Linked DNA regions of Homo sapiens: region 2 is linked to region 1. A link means that fine-mapping ties the variant in region 1 to the expression of a gene that starts in the linked region. Tissue or cell type: whole blood. Region 1 holds a variant in brackets; the other region holds the start of a gene. All regions are shown on one strand. Distances are between the middles of the regions.

Evidence for each region. PIP is the estimated chance that this variant, and not a neighbour inherited with it, causes the effect.
Region 2: VEGFA starts here. The variant in region 1 is fine-mapped to the expression of VEGFA in whole blood (TOPMed, PIP above 0.99).

What each region holds. Positions count from the first base shown.
Region 1 is chr6:43,724,110-43,726,864 of GRCh38, forward strand. No RefSeq gene overlaps it. Among named protein-coding and RNA genes, the nearest start is that of MRPS18A, 38 kb to the left of the region's middle. RefSeq lists an enhancer at 832-921. The variant C/A (reference allele first, on the strand shown) is at 1,153.
Region 2 is chr6:43,768,616-43,771,370 of GRCh38, forward strand. VEGFA (vascular endothelial growth factor A) reads left to right here and starts at 1,596. Exons shown (of 8, transcript NM_003376.6): 1 at 1,596-2,697. The coding sequence starts at 2,092. RefSeq lists silencers at 1,409-1,658, 2,036-2,755 and an enhancer at 2,021-2,755.

The DNA.
Region 1 (2,755 bases):
ACCAGTTCTGGGGAGAAGGATTGGGATTGGACTCACGCAGTGGGAGGTAGCTGCCTAGGGCATCTGCCCTTGGTGTCCTCCGGGGCCTAGGCTGTCTCTCCTCCATGGAGGCTCTTCACCAATGGGGTGTGGGCCTGGCGTGCCACCGGACTCTGAGTTCCAGCAGTGCCTAGTAAGTGCATCTTGAGATGCTCCCCTATAAAGAGCTCTGAGATTAAATGCGTTTCCTTGTCTCGTCCCTCGTCTCTGAGGGTTGTAGCCCAGATTAGCATGTTAGAGGCTCAGAGAAGTCCTGCAGTCAAGAAAACCTGTTAGACTGTGTTTAACTCAGGTTTCCTGTGCTTATTTGAGCCCGTTTGCCACAACATAGTTAGGGAAATGCTGGCTTAAGGGTGGGAAAGGGGGTGTGCTTGATACATTAACCTTCCCCAAGAGCATTTGCCCTCCCAACACACTCCCTCCTCCACCCATTGCAAGTAGTGTGTGACACATGTCTGTTGTAGAAAAGTGGGGGAAAAAACTACAAAGAAGAAAGTTACCCATCCCCTGCCTCCAGAAGAAAGTTACCCATCCCCTGCCTCCTGCTCCTTAGTCTCTTCTCAAAAGAGCTCTGGCCACTGTCCTCGGTCTTCCTGGAGAAAGGGTGATGATGGAGCTCCCCTCAAGGCACACCCACTTCTACTGGGGAGAAGCCCCAAGAGGAAAGGGCCCTTTTAGAGGTCATCTTATCCACCCCTCCGTCTCCTCTCTGTGCAGATTCTTGCTTCCCTCTCTTGCTGACATTCCTACAGGAAGGGAGATGGTGGTGGTGGTTTGGAGGGTGTTGAGGGGCGCAGAGGGCAATTGGGTATGTAGATCATCAGGGTGGAAGGTGAGCTTCCTTTCTAGGTGGGGAAACAGGCTCAGAGAGGGGCCATGACTTACTGGTGTTTCACAATGAGCCAGTGGTGGAGCTCACAGATCCTGGCCCCAGACCAGGCACCCTCCTCCCCCTAACCCCCATCTCCAGCTCTCAATGCCAAGAGTCTGGAGCGGGCCCTGTGCACTCCAGGCAAGGCTGCGGTTTCTTCTGTGGGACTGTGGAGCCACCCAGGGTGTGTGGGTGCTGCGCACGCGCACCACAGTTGTGTAACAGGCTCTGGGGCGTGTGCA[C/A]GCGCTCAGTAACCTGATGCAACAGGGAAGCTGTGGTCCCGTGAGCTGGGGTGTGGGCGCTTGGCCGGTGCCCAAACCACAAAGAGTATTTGGCTGGTGGCTAAGGAGGCCAGGCATGGGGGTCGCAGAGTTGTCTACGTCAGGGCTTGTCTATCCCTAGTTGCCCACATCCTGGTCCCTGTGGGCGCAGGGCTGGGAATGGGGCTGCCTGGCCAGGTGATACTGTGGAGGAGGGGTTGGGGCCTTGCCCCTTCCTCCTTCTGTTTGCCACGATGCCTATTGTGATGAGGATGGGGGGCAGGCGGGGCTTCCTCCCTGTGGTTCCATCTCTTCCTGGCTGTAACCCCCCAACCCAGTTCTGTACCCTGCTCTCTCCACCAATCCTGGAGCCCTCACCACAGATCCAGGTCATTTTACACAGCAATATCTGCCTCTCACTCCCCCACCTCCCCTGAGTCTCACAGCCCTGCCCTCCCTACATAATAGGCTTTCCTGGGCACCCCAAATTGGGAGAAGCAGAACGGGGAAGGAGAAGAAGAGTGGCCACTTTGCAGCCAGCCCAGATGCTGACTTTCCGCTGCCACTTCTGAACTGAGTGACTGAGAAAGATCAGTGTCCCTTCTCAGCCTCCATGTACTCATCTAAGAGGTGGGGGCAGTGATACTCCCTGCTGAGAGTGGTGGAAAGATAGTGTGCTCCTGTGAACAGGAGTCCTGAACTCTTGAACTCTAGGGTCTAGGAAAGAACTCCATGAAAGGGGAGTTGCCCCTTCATTCTGCTCCATGTGGATTGAGTGTTAGGGCACCCGCCCTCCTCCCAACTCCCCAGCATTTCTATCACCAGACAGGGTGGCAGGCACTTTGGAGAGCCAGGGTCCTGGGAGGAGGTGGCCCATGAAAGCAGGCCCTATTCTGCCTGCCTGTGGCCACCTGTGTACCCTCTCTCCCCTCTTGTCCGCAGGGAGGTGGGGCACATGCATTTCTTCTGCCCCTCTCCACTTGCTCCAGCACTTCAGAAAGGCAACATCCTTGGGGGTGGCCAGTGGGTTCCAGGGATGCAGGGTTAGGTGACGCAGGGAGGGCATCTATGCCCAGTGTCCTGACTCTCTTCCCTGGCTGGGCTGTACCTGGCACGTTGGGGCTCCTCTCCAGTGCTCCCAGGATGCCCTGGATCTACATTGCCTTATTCTGCACTAACCACCTAATGTTTTGATGATCTGCTTATGCATCTACCTAAAAATAACAAATGATGCACTTTGGGAGGCCAAGGCGGGAGGATTGCTTGAGTCCAGGAGTTTGAGACCAGCCTGGGCAACATAATGAAACCCCTATCTCTACAAAAAGTAAACAAATTAGCCAGGTGTGGTGGTGCACACCTGTAGTCCCAGCTACTCAGAAGGCTGAGGTGGGAGGATTGCTTGAGCCCAGGCAGTCAAGCCTGCAGTGAGCCACGATCATGCCACTGCACTCCAGCCTGGGTGACAGAGTGAGACTCCTCCATTCCACCCTCCCCTTCCCTGGGAAAAATAAATAATTGATGACACTTACATAGTGCTCACTATGTTCCAGGCTTTACATATACTAACTCGTTTGCTTCCCATGGT
Region 2 (2,755 bases), 45 kb after region 1:
ACAGAGGCTATGCCAGCTGTAGGCCAGACCCTGGCAAGATCTGGGTGGATAATCAGACTGACTGGTCCCACTCTTCCCACAGGCCTCAGAGCCCCAACTTTGTTCCCTGGGGCAGCCTGGAAATAGCCAGGTCAGAAACCAGCTAGGAATTTTTCCAAGCTGCTTCCTATATGCAAGAATGGGATGGGGCCTTTGGGAGCACTTAGGGAAGATGTGGAGAGTTGGAGGAAAAGGGGGCTTGGAGGTAAGGGAGGGGACTGGGGGAAGGATAGGGGAGAAGCTGTGAGCCTGGAGAAGTAGCCAAGGGATCCTGAGGGAATGGGGGAGCTGAGACGAAACCCCCATTTCTATTCAGAAGATGAGCTATGAGTCTGGGCTTGGGCTGATAGAAGCCTTGGCCCCTGGCCTGGTGGGAGCTCTGGGCAGCTGGCCTACAGACGTTCCTTAGTGCTGGCGGGTAGGTTTGAATCATCACGCAGGCCCTGGCCTCCACCCGCCCCCACCAGCCCCCTGGCCTCAGTTCCCTGGCAACATCTGGGGTTGGGGGGGCAGCAGGAACAAGGGCCTCTGTCTGCCCAGCTGCCTCCCCCTTTGGGTTTTGCCAGACTCCACAGTGCATACGTGGGCTCCAACAGGTCCTCTTCCCTCCCAGTCACTGACTAACCCCGGAACCACACAGCTTCCCGTTCTCAGCTCCACAAACTTGGTGCCAAATTCTTCTCCCCTGGGAAGCATCCCTGGACACTTCCCAAAGGACCCCAGTCACTCCAGCCTGTTGGCTGCCGCTCACTTTGATGTCTGCAGGCCAGATGAGGGCTCCAGATGGCACATTGTCAGAGGGACACACTGTGGCCCCTGTGCCCAGCCCTGGGCTCTCTGTACATGAAGCAACTCCAGTCCCAAATATGTAGCTGTTTGGGAGGTCAGAAATAGGGGGTCCAGGAGCAAACTCCCCCCACCCCCTTTCCAAAGCCCATTCCCTCTTTAGCCAGAGCCGGGGTGTGCAGACGGCAGTCACTAGGGGGCGCTCGGCCACCACAGGGAAGCTGGGTGAATGGAGCGAGCAGCGTCTTCGAGAGTGAGGACGTGTGTGTCTGTGTGGGTGAGTGAGTGTGTGCGTGTGGGGTTGAGGGCGTTGGAGCGGGGAGAAGGCCAGGGGTCACTCCAGGATTCCAATAGATCTGTGTGTCCCTCTCCCCACCCGTCCCTGTCCGGCTCTCCGCCTTCCCCTGCCCCCTTCAATATTCCTAGCAAAGAGGGAACGGCTCTCAGGCCCTGTCCGCACGTAACCTCACTTTCCTGCTCCCTCCTCGCCAATGCCCCGCGGGCGCGTGTCTCTGGACAGAGTTTCCGGGGGCGGATGGGTAATTTTCAGGCTGTGAACCTTGGTGGGGGTCGAGCTTCCCCTTCATTGCGGCGGGCTGCGGGCCAGGCTTCACTGAGCGTCCGCAGAGCCCGGGCCCGAGCCGCGTGTGGAAGGGCTGAGGCTCGCCTGTCCCCGCCCCCCGGGGCGGGCCGGGGGCGGGGTCCCGGCGGGGCGGAGCCATGCGCCCCCCCCTTTTTTTTTTAAAAGTCGGCTGGTAGCGGGGAGGATCGCGGAGGCTTGGGGCAGCCGGGTAGCTCGGAGGTCGTGGCGCTGGGGGCTAGCACCAGCGCTCTGTCGGGAGGCGCAGCGGTTAGGTGGACCGGTCAGCGGACTCACCGGCCAGGGCGCTCGGTGCTGGAATTTGATATTCATTGATCCGGGTTTTATCCCTCTTCTTTTTTCTTAAACATTTTTTTTTAAAACTGTATTGTTTCTCGTTTTAATTTATTTTTGCTTGCCATTCCCCACTTGAATCGGGCCGACGGCTTGGGGAGATTGCTCTACTTCCCCAAATCACTGTGGATTTTGGAAACCAGCAGAAAGAGGAAAGAGGTAGCAAGAGCTCCAGAGAGAAGTCGAGGAAGAGAGAGACGGGGTCAGAGAGAGCGCGCGGGCGTGCGAGCAGCGAAAGCGACAGGGGCAAAGTGAGTGACCTGCTTTTGGGGGTGACCGCCGGAGCGCGGCGTGAGCCCTCCCCCTTGGGATCCCGCAGCTGACCAGTCGCGCTGACGGACAGACAGACAGACACCGCCCCCAGCCCCAGCTACCACCTCCTCCCCGGCCGGCGGCGGACAGTGGACGCGGCGGCGAGCCGCGGGCAGGGGCCGGAGCCCGCGCCCGGAGGCGGGGTGGAGGGGGTCGGGGCTCGCGGCGTCGCACTGAAACTTTTCGTCCAACTTCTGGGCTGTTCTCGCTTCGGAGGAGCCGTGGTCCGCGCGGGGGAAGCCGAGCCGAGCGGAGCCGCGAGAAGTGCTAGCTCGGGCCGGGAGGAGCCGCAGCCGGAGGAGGGGGAGGAGGAAGAAGAGAAGGAAGAGGAGAGGGGGCCGCAGTGGCGACTCGGCGCTCGGAAGCCGGGCTCATGGACGGGTGAGGCGGCGGTGTGCGCAGACAGTGCTCCAGCCGCGCGCGCTCCCCAGGCCCTGGCCCGGGCCTCGGGCCGGGGAGGAAGAGTAGCTCGCCGAGGCGCCGAGGAGAGCGGGCCGCCCCACAGCCCGAGCCGGAGAGGGAGCGCGAGCCGCGCCGGCCCCGGTCGGGCCTCCGAAACCATGAACTTTCTGCTGTCTTGGGTGCATTGGAGCCTTGCCTTGCTGCTCTACCTCCACCATGCCAAGGTAAGCGGTCGTGCCCTGCTGGCGCCGCGGGCCGCTGCGAGCGCCTCTCCCGGCTGGG